2 separate regions of the Homo sapiens genome follow, and region 2 is linked to region 1. Evidence: fine-mapped expression QTL. Tissue or cell type: nucleus accumbens. Region 1 holds a variant in brackets; the other region holds the start of a gene. All regions are shown on one strand. Distances are from middle to middle.

Region 1 (5,144 bases):
TACTAAAAATACAAAAAATTAGCCAGGTGTGGCGGTGTGCGCCTGTAGTCCCAGCTACTCGGGAGGCTGAGGCAGGAGGATGGCCTGAACCCGGGAGGCAGAGCTTGCAGTGAGCCAAGATTGCGCCACTGCACTCCAGCCTGGGCGACAGAGGGAGACTCTGTCTCAAAAAAAAAAAAAAAAAAATTGTATCTGATGGGCTACATAAAATATCTCATAGTAATTTAGTTTCTTTCTTTCCTTCCTTCCTTCCTTCCTTCCTTCTTTCTTTTTTGAGACAGGGTTTCTCTCTGTTGCCCAGGCTGGAGTGCAGCAGTCCAATCAGAGCTCACTGCAACCTCTGCCTCCCGGGCTCAAGCGATCCTCTCACCTCAGCCTCCCGAGTAGGTGGGACCACGGGAACACGCCACCACAGCTACTTTTTTATTTTTTTTGTAGAGACAGGCTGACCAGTTTCTTTGTACTTATTTTTATGTGGCTGATAGAAAATTGAAATTCTCACCTGTGGCTTCCACTGTGTTTCTATTGGACTAAAGAACCTGTCACATTTTGTCAGCTCCCAACCACCCCCTACCACTGTCCTTATAAAAGAAATAAAAATAAAACAGCGGCTGCCTCTTACCTGTGGCACTAGTGACAATCTCCACAGAGCTATTTACTCCGTCTTTCTCCACCCACACAGAACACGTATACAATGACCCGGGTCCAAGGCCATCCACGGTGACTCTGGTGTCTGTTGTGTTTCGAGTCTCTGTTCTGCCACCATCTCCAGTGCACTGAACGCAGTAGGTCGAGTTCTGTGGGTCTGTGCCATCGGGGACCTCCCAGCTCAGGGAGATGGAGCTGGTGGTCTGAGCCTCCACTCTCAGGTTCCTCACTGGGTTGTGAGCTGAGAAATTAGGAAGAAAGATCTAATATGAGCAGGACTACAGAACATAACGGGGGCAGCCAGTGAGCTTTTTGTTTGTTTGTTTTTTCGAGACAGAGTCTCTGTCTGTCATCCAGGCTGGAGTGCAGTGGCACGATCTCGGCTCACCACAGCCTCCGCCGTCCGGGTTCAAGCGATTCTCCTGCCTCAGCCTCCCGAGTAGGTGGGACTACAGGTCTGCACCACCACACCCGGCTTATTTTTATATTTTTTCACCATGCTGGCCAGGCTGGTCTCGAACTCCTGACCTCAGGTGATCCTCCCACCTCGGCCTCCCAAAGTGCTGGGACTACAGGCGTGAGGCAACATGCCTGGCCAAGTGGGCATTTTTGATCATCAGAGTTCCTAGTTGTCCCTCAACAGCTGGTGCCAGTAGATGCAGAGTTTATGGTCTAGACCAGGGCTTCTCATTCTTTGCTGTGTGCACATCTCACAGGGGACCTTGTGAAATGCAGGTTCTCACTCAGCAGGGCTAGGATGGAGCTGAGAGACTGCACTCCCCCCCACCCTTTTTCTCCCCCACCAGTGTCACTTGCCAATGTATTTCCATCAGCTCTCAGAGACCCGGATGCTGCCCACACATGGACCACACTTTGAGTAACAAAGACCTGAGCCAGCGCTTTCCAACTGAGCTTCTGCAACGATGGAAATGCTCTCCCACCTTCCAGTATGGTAGGAGAACAGAGAAGGAAATGGAAGCCCTTCAACAGGGCTTTCAAACATATGAAATGTGAAACTGAATTTGCAGTTTCATGCAACTTTAACGAGCTTAAATTTAATAGCCATGTGTGGCTGGTGGCTACCATATCGGACAATGGAGATCTAGCCAGAGGGAGCTCTCCACATCAGGATCATGGAGCTGATGATCTGAGTTTCCATCCTCAATATGTGACGCAGCTGGGGACTAGAAGAAGAGTCAGAGGGTCAGAGTGTCCCCACTCACAGTATCTAATTCCTTGAAAGCTCAGGTAACATGCCTTGGCCCCTACACATTCCTCTTGGTGCAGGAAGGTACATTCTAGAGAGTCCTAGACACAGACCGGCCCCAGCTTAGCAGCTGGAGGTACCATGGACATTCATTCCTTCTTCATCTCCTGAGCTGAGACTGCCCCAGGATGTGGACATGAGTACCTGGCTCAATGTGGCCCAGAGGGACTATGGAATAGAAATCCGCTACGTTCTCCTGCCTACTGCCCCTTAAACAAGTAAGAGCAAAACAAATGGCGACTGCCTCTCACCTGTGGTGGCATTTCGAGTCTCCCGGGAGCTGTTGATTCCATTCTTTCCCACCCACATGGAAAACGCATACAAACACCCGGGTTCAAGTCCATCCACGGTGATGTTAGTGTGTGCTGTGCTTCGAGTCCCTGCTCTGCCACCATCTCCAGTGTACTCAACCCCGTAGGTGGAGTTCTGTGGGTCTGGGCCGTCGGGGACCTCCCAGGTCAGGGCGATGGAGCTGTTGGTCTGAGCCTCCACTCTCAGGTTCCTCACTGGGTTGGGAGCTGAAAACCAGCACAGGAGGGAAAATCAGTTGTAGTTTCTGGCCCTCAAACTTTCCAGCCCTTCCTTAACCGTTGCATCCAGCAGGTAGAGGCAGGGAGGCCCAGCTCTGCACTGTCCAGTGTGGCAGCCACGAGTTCCACGTGAGTGTTGAGCACCGTGAGGTGGCTTTTGTGAAATGAGATGAGCCGTTAGTGGAAGATCCACACCGGCTTTCGAAGAGTTCGTATGAAATTAAGAATGTCAACTGTCTCATTGATCCTTTATATATATTTGTGTGTGTGTGAGTATATACTTGGTGTATATATTGAATGATCGTTTTTATATTGATTACAAGTCAAAATGAAAATACCTTGTATCTGCCAGGTGCAGTGGCTCACACCTGTAATCCCCGCACTTTGGGAGGCCGAGGCAGGCGGATCACCTGAGGTCAGGAGTTCGAGACCAGCCTGGCCAACATGG[C/T]GAAACCCAGTCTCTACTAAAAATACAAAAGTTAGTTGGGCATGGTGGCACATGCCTGTAGTCTCTGCTACTCGGGAGGCTGAGGCAGGAGAATCACTTGAACCCAGGAGGCAAAGGTTGCAGTGAACCAAGATCATGCCACTGCACTCCAACCTGGGCGACAGAGCAAGACTCTGCCTCAAAAAAAAAAAAAATTGTATCTGATGGACTACATAAAATCTCTCATAGTAATTTAGTTTGTTTTTCTTTTCTTTTGTTTTCTTTTGTTTTCTTTTCTTTTTTTTTTTTTGAGACAGGGTTTCTCTCTGTTGCCCAGGCTGGAGTGCAGCGGTCCAATCAGAGCTCACTGCAACCTCTGCCTCCCGGGCTCAAGCGATCCTCTCACCTCAGCCTCCCGAGTAGATGGGACCACGGGAACACGCCACCACAGCTACTTTTTAATTTTTTTGTAGAGACAGGCTGACCAGTTTCTTTTTACTTATTTTTATGTGGCTGATAGAAAATTGAAATTCTCACGTGTGGCTTCCACTGTGTTTCTATCCAACTAAAGAACCTGTCGCATTTTGTCAGCTCTCAACCACCCCCTACCACTGTCCTTATAAAAGAAATAAAAATAAAGCAGTGGCTGCCTCTTACCTGTGGCAGTAGTGACAGTCCCCACAGAGCTATTTACTCCGTCTTTCTCCACCCACACAGAACACGTATACAATGACCCGGGTCCAAGGCCATCCACGGTGACGTTGGTGGCTGTTGTGTTTCGAGTCTCTGTTGTGCCGCCGTCTCCAGTACACTGAACCCAGTAGTTGGAGTTCTGTGAGTCTAGGCCATCGGGGACCTCCCAGCTCAGGGAGATGGAGCTGGTGGTCTGAGTCTCCACTGTCAGGTTCCTCCCTGGGTTGGGGGCTGAGAATTGGGAAGGAAGGTCTGACAAAAAGGGAACCAGGTCAGTACAATCCCTCCCAACCCCTGAGCTCACGCCCCAAGTCCAGAAACAACGGCGCTCATAAACCCCTACCATGGACCACTGGACCCCACGGGGACCCCCCAGAGGCTCACGGCAGTTGCGGTCCCACCTCTTCGAGTGGGCAGTGAGTTCAGGCAGGGGTCACTCACCAGGCGCCCTGGCCCCTGTCCAGCTGCACAGGCCCTGGAGGGAACCCAGAGAAAACGGAGTCAGCCTCTCAACCACTCCTCCGCCCAGTGAGGCCGAGGGGCTGGGAGGAGCGGCTGGTCCCCGCCCCATGAGTCACCCTTGCATGGGAAGGAGGGGCCGGTGTTAGGCTGGGCTGTCACGACCTCGACCGTCTTTCCTGGGTCGAGGAGAGAAGGGGGAGCATGGCAGGAGCAGAGCTTAGGGAGCTGGGGTTGGCTCCACCCGATAAGGCTGAGAGATAAAATTAATGATTTCATTTCCTGAAATATATGTCCTTGGAAAACCGAGGGCAGAGAGCAATGAACAGACTGGGAAGGGAGAAAAAAACCAAGGTTGGGGATCAGGAACCTTGGCCTGAGGGTGGAGGGCCTGGGGGCCTGGGGGCCTGGGTCTGAGGGAGGAGGGGCTGGGGGTCTCGACCTCTGGTTTGAGGGAGGAGAGGTTGGGGGCCTGGACTCCTGAGTCTGAGGGAGGAGGGGCTGGGGTCTGGACTCCTGGGTCTGAGGGAGGAGGGGCTGGGGGTCTCGACCTCTGGTTTGAGGGAGGAGAGGTTGGGGGCCTGGACTCCTGAGTCTGAGGGAGGAGGGGCTGGGGGTCTGGATTCCTGGGTCTGAGGGAGGAGGGGCTGGGGGTCTCGACCTCTGGTTTGAGGGAGGAGAGGTTGGGGGCCTGGACTCCTGAGTCTGAGGGAGGAGGGGCTGGGGTCTGGACTCCTGGGTCTGAGGGAGTAGGGGCTGGGGGTCTGGATTCCTGGGTCTGAGGGAGGAGGGGCTGGGGGTCTGGACTCCTGGGTCTGAGGGAGGAGGGGCTGGGGGTCTCGACCTCTGGTTTGAGGGAGGAGAGGTTGGGGGCCTGGACTCCTGAGTCTGAGGGAGGAGGGGCTGGGGTCTGGACTCCTGGGTCTGAGGGAGGAGGGCCTGGGGGCCTGGGGGCCTGGGTCTGAGGGAGGAGGGGCTGGGGGTCTCGACCTCTGGTTTGAGGGAGGAGAGGTTGGGGGCCTGGACTCCTGAGTCTGAGGGAGGAGGGGCTGGGGTCTGGACTCCTGGGTCTGAGGGAGGAGGGGCTGGGGGTCTGGATTCCTGGGTCTGAGGGAGGAGG
Region 2 (5,144 bases), 180 kb after region 1:
GGGGAGGTGACACAGGCACCCTCATTTCTTTTGTTCAGTAGGAGTCTCTGAGGCCTCCCCAGTACCATGCTGCATGGGTGAGGCCGAGGACACAGAGAAGTATCAGGAAAAGCTCTTGCCCCTTTATCAGGCAGGGCTCCCTCTCCAACCATATCCATTCATGGTTCATTGCCCAATTCACCACCTACCCATATCTACCCATTAAACAACCCATCCATCCGTCAATCCAACCACATCCCTGCATCAACCAACCCATGTATTCACCCATCCACCCACCCACCCATCTGTCCATTCACCCGTCCATCCACCCATCCATCTACCCATCCACCTATCCAACCACCCACCCATCTATGCATTCACCCATCCATCCATCAAACAACTCATCCATCCACGCACCCATCGATCTACCCATCCACCCACCCACCCATCTATCAATCTATCATCCATTCACCCATGCATCCATCAACCAACTCATCCATCCATCCACCCATCCATCTACCCATCCACCCATCCAGCCATCCGTTCTTCCATCCATCCTTCCACTTCCCTACCCAACCATCAACCTTTCCTGATTTCACACTTTTTGCTGGGCAATGCTAGGAACAAGGACGCTAGGGACCTAGGTCTTACCCTCAAGGCACTCCCTGTCAGGTGGGAGAGACAGTAACAACATAGACACAGCACATGGCCATATAAGCAGCAAGAGGGGTCGCTCAGACAATATGAAGACCCAGAGAAGACCCAGAGAAATTAAGTTAAATCTTAAACATGTGAGAAGTTTTCTGGGTGGAGTGGAGACAGCCAAGGGCACTCCTGGTGTAGAGAAGAGCAGGAACAGGGACCAACTGGCTATCTGTGGACTAAGAGACACCATTAGTGCAGAGAGGCAGGAGAAATGGGGCCAAAATATGGGGGGTCCACAGGCCAGTGAGTGCTTCAGTTTAACCAAAGGTGAAGAGGGAGCCACAGCAGGTCTTTGAGCAGAGGCAGGCTAGCTGGAAAGGTGTGTTTAGGAAAGAGATAGAAGGTAGAGGGGAAAGGGGAGTGAATGTGTGGTGGCTTCATTTCTCCTGCTGTTGGTCCTTCTTACTCCTCCTTTTCTAGGCCTACAGGTCAGGAAAATCCCAGCTCCTCCTTTCCTAGGCCTACAGGTCAGGAGAATCCCAGCTCCTCTTTTCCTAGGCCTACAGGTCAGGAGAATCCCAGCTCCTCCACCTACGTGTTGTGTGGCCTTGGGCAAATGTGGCGCCTTTCTGCGCTTCAGTTTCCTCCACTGCAGAATGGGGATGGTAATAGTAGTGACCTTGGAGACCAGTTACATGGAGAGGATTAAATGGGGCCTGGTCTGGGCTCAGTGGCTCACGCCTGTAATCCCAGCACTTTGGGAGGCTGAGGAGAGCAAATCGCATGAGCTCAGGAGGTGGGGACCAACCTGGCCCACATGGCAAAACCCCGTCTCTACTAAATATACAAAAATTAGCCCGGCAAGGTGGGGCGCACATGTATTCTCAGCTACTTGGGAGGCTCAGGTGGGAGGACTGCTTGAGCCTAGGAGGTCGAGGCTGCTGTGAGCTGAGATCACGCCACTGCACTCCAGCCTGGGTGACAGTGAGAGATCCTGTCTCAAAACAACCCCAAACGACAACAAAACAAAACAAAACAAAAAATGGGGCCTGGTGTACCTGGAAGCTGGGGCTCTCCCCGTGCGGGGGGCCTAACTGTGTGACTCGACCCCCACACTTCCCATCTCCAGGGGCAGGGTCTCACAGCCTCCCCCACGTATGCACCTGTGCTTGCTGTGTCTGCGGTTCTCCGCCAGAGCCTTCCCGTCCCTGTCTCCACCCCGCCCTGGGACTCTACCTCCCCATGGCCGCTCTCTGTCTCCATCTGTCCATCGCTCCCCCGTCTGTCTCCATTCCCGTCCCTCCCTCGGTCCCTCCGTCTCCCCGCCCTGCCCCGCCCGCCCCTCACCTGGGCCTCACTCGCTGCCCGCGCCCGCCGCCCCGGGCCCGGCCTCGAGCGTGGCGAGCTGCAGGCGCACGCGGCGGGAGCCGGCGGCGGGCGGCGGGGGCGCGCGGGCGGCTCGGCGCGCTCTCCGGGAGCCGGGCGCGGGGCGCTGGCCCGCGGCGGCGGGCGCCGACCAGCGGCGGGAGAGCTTGCGCGCCAGGCGGGCGAGCGCCGAGGGCCGCAGGCCGTAGTCGCGCTCCAGCTCCTGGCGCGAGATCTCGATGTTGCCGGTGTACCAGAGGATCCAGCCCAGCAGGCTCAGGAACACCAGCAGCGCGCCCGAGTAGATGAGCAGGTCCCCGAAGTCGCGGCCGCGCACCTGCAGCTGCGCGAACACGCCGGTCAGCAGCGCCGCCATGCCCGCCACATCCAGCGCCACGGCCAGCAGCAGCGCCATCCGGCAGCGGCCCAGGCCGGCCGCGGGTGCTGGCGCGGCCGCCGGCGCGGACGGTGCACCCGGCGGGCTCCCCTGCGAGGCGCACACCGCTGGCGCCGCCGCCATGGCCCTGCACCGCCGCCGCTGGCGCCCAGAGAGAGCGTTCCGGGGTGCGGCCCGGTCCGGGGCGGGGTCAGGGGACGGCGCCAGGTGTGCCAAGCTCCCGCCTGGTCACCTGAACCGGGCTGGGCGCGAACCGGCGCGGCCGGGGTTACCCTGGTCGTGGTTTCCGTGCAGGGGCTATTGCTCAGAGGCCTGAGCTGGTGGTAGCCAGGCGCACAGCCACGGGTGCCTAGGGCCCGTGCCACCCAGGGAGGTCACATATGGCCAAAAATCAGGGCATTTTAGTGGTGGCAGCATGGGACACTCGGAGCCGGGCGTGGCGTTGTTTCTGCTCAGTGTCCGCCTCCCGAAGCCTGTGCAGATCAGACAGTGCAGATCAGACAAGGCCTTTAGACACCAAGGAGCTCTGGGACGCGAGAACCAGTAGTCGGGGTGATCTAAGAGGGGAAGCTCCGGGTTCCGCGGAAGCTGAGTTTCCTTCACTCAGCGCGTGTCTTCTGGGGTCTCCTGTGTTCAGCGAATGAAGCCACGGGCACAAGGACGGACGAGACCCATCAGGTCCAGAGCGCACCCGTGGAGGAAGCTGGGCGAACCCCGACTGTCCTATGGAGGATAGTCCTATGGACCAGACGAAGCCCCTGCCCCAAGGAGTGCCCGGGTGTAACCGCAAGTTAAGGAGCCCTGGGGAGGTGACACAGGCACCCTCATTCCTTTTGTTCAGTAGGAGTCTCTGAGGCCTCCCCAGCACCATGCCGCGTGGGTGAGGCCGAGGACACAGAGAAATATCAGGCAAGGCTCCTGCCCCCTTAGGGTGGCCCTGACAACGGATCATAACCTCCCAGGGAGCTGATGGGGTGTGACAGGCACACCATAGGCTGGAGGCACAGGTGGAGGGCAGGGAAGAGGACCGGCAAATCTATAGAATCCTAAAGGGAGCCAAGAGAAGCCACATGCAAATCTCCCTCCCTCCAAACAATTCTCCCTTAGAGGGCATCCGCGCTCCCCTGGGGTGGCAGTCAGCGAGAAGTTTCCGTGTAGGTTCTCCCCAGGCTTAAACAGTTTAAGAGTTTTATTTCAAGAAAACCCTGGGGAGGGCGAACTGCAAGAGGGCTGCCAGGATTAGCCGAGGGATTCCGAATGAAGACGGAGTATTTCCGAACATACACACCTCTCCCAAGAGCGTTTCCGGAGGGTTCCGAAAATACCCGAGCGGGCCTCGGCGCCCTCATTGGCCATCACCGCGAGGGCTTACGAAGACCGGAAATATCCAAAGGTGCCGGGGCTAGGCTTATATAGTTCACGCATTCACCAGTTCATTCATAAAACAAATGTTTGTTGAGCGCCCATCATATGCCAATCACAGTGACAAGTGCTGGGTGAGCAATACTGGAGAGATAACGCTGAGGTATGGGTCCCAGGACCTCTCGAATTGGAGCCACTCGGAAATCCAGCGGTAGAGTTTCGAAAACTTCCGAACGGTTCCCGGAATACGCTCTCGGCCCTCTAACCGAAGAGTTCCGAATATTCCCGAGCGTTGAGCGAATTTTCGGCGGAAGCAGCCGAACATCATCGAGCCGCCTCGGAGGTGGGGACCGACAACTCCTGTCGTGCCCGCCCGGAGAGGAAGCGGAAATGCGTGTACGGTATTAAAGGCGTCGCCTCGCCCCTCGCCTTCCTCTTTCCGTCTCAGGTCGCCGCTGCGAAGGGAGGTGAGCGTTCGTCTTCCTCGCGTGGTCGCCATCTCCGGCCCGCCGCGCACTCCCTCTCAGTCCTCTGCCTGCCTTCTCCCCTTGCGCCTCAAGGGTCATTGGCGGACCCCAACCCCTCCCCGTGAAGTCGTTGTGAATTTTCAAGTTATTTTCCCCTCACTCTCATTCGCCGCAGCTAGTCTCGGCTGCCTGAATTCGGTCCCGCCGCCTTAGGTCACTCAGTCCCGCCTGACAAGAGTTCTAGGTCGCTGTCTGCCCTCAGGGGTCTCCCATTCACCCAAGTTCCCAGTCGCTCTCTTCCTCTGCTGTCCGAGCGTGGCCCGTGGCCTAACGCTGCTTTAGTTCTCTGTGTCTGACGCTTTCCCTGTGCCCGTTTCCCCGCAGCCGCCGCCATGTCTGCGCATCTGCAATGGATGGTCGTGCGGAACTGCTCCAGTTTCCTGATCAAGAGGAATAAGCAGACCTACAGCACTGTAAGTGGGGCCCGGATGCGTGGCTCCTGCGGGAGGAGGGTCCTGAGTCTCTTGACTCTGGGTCAGAGGGCGGGACCTTCGCATGTCTCCGGGTCCCTTATTCACGATGCCTTGTGCCGCCTCCTTCCCAGGAGCCCAATAACTTGAAGGCCCGCAATTCCTTCCGCTACAACGGACTGATTCACCGCAAGACTGTGGGCGTGGAGCCGGCAGCCGACGGCAAAGGTGTCGTGGTGGTCATTAAGCGGAGATCCGGTGAGTTTTGTCTGGTTTGGGCCAGAGAGCGGCCCCTTTCCCGGGTCTGGGAGCTGTGATTTTTTACTGTCAGGCAGGAAGAGCGGTAACTGCCATCGCGGCGGGCATCCCTGGCGCCAGGGTGTTGGTCTGGGTACCGGCTTCCCTCTCGGCCGACTTGTCAGCTCTGTGAGCCGCGCGCGTCTGAGCCCGTGTCCTCAC

Evidence for each region. PIP is the estimated chance that this variant, and not a neighbour inherited with it, causes the effect.
Region 2: TMEM238 starts here. The variant in region 1 is fine-mapped to the expression of TMEM238 in nucleus accumbens (GTEx, PIP above 0.99).

The regions. Positions count from the first base shown.
Region 1 is chr19:55,203,160-55,208,303 of GRCh38, forward strand. PTPRH (protein tyrosine phosphatase receptor type H) reads right to left here. Exons shown (of 20, transcript NM_002842.5): 2 at 4,007-4,040; 3 at 3,530-3,796; 4 at 2,167-2,433; 5 at 623-889. Among named protein-coding and RNA genes, the nearest start is that of PTPRH, 3.8 kb to the right of the region's middle. The variant C/T (reference allele first, on the strand shown) is at 2,894.
Region 2 is chr19:55,381,751-55,386,894 of GRCh38, forward strand. It overlaps TMEM238 (transmembrane protein 238), which reads right to left and starts at 2,542. Exons shown (of 2, transcript NM_001190764.2): 1 at 1,972-2,542. The coding sequence starts at 2,509. The coding sequence ends at 1,979. It overlaps RPL28 (ribosomal protein L28), which reads left to right and starts at 4,182. Exons shown (of 5, transcript NM_000991.5): 1 at 4,182-4,215; 2 at 4,600-4,688; 3 at 4,820-4,943. The coding sequence starts at 4,608. RefSeq lists silencers at 2,048-2,137, 2,428-2,767 and enhancers at 2,142-3,104, 3,058-3,127, 3,158-3,227.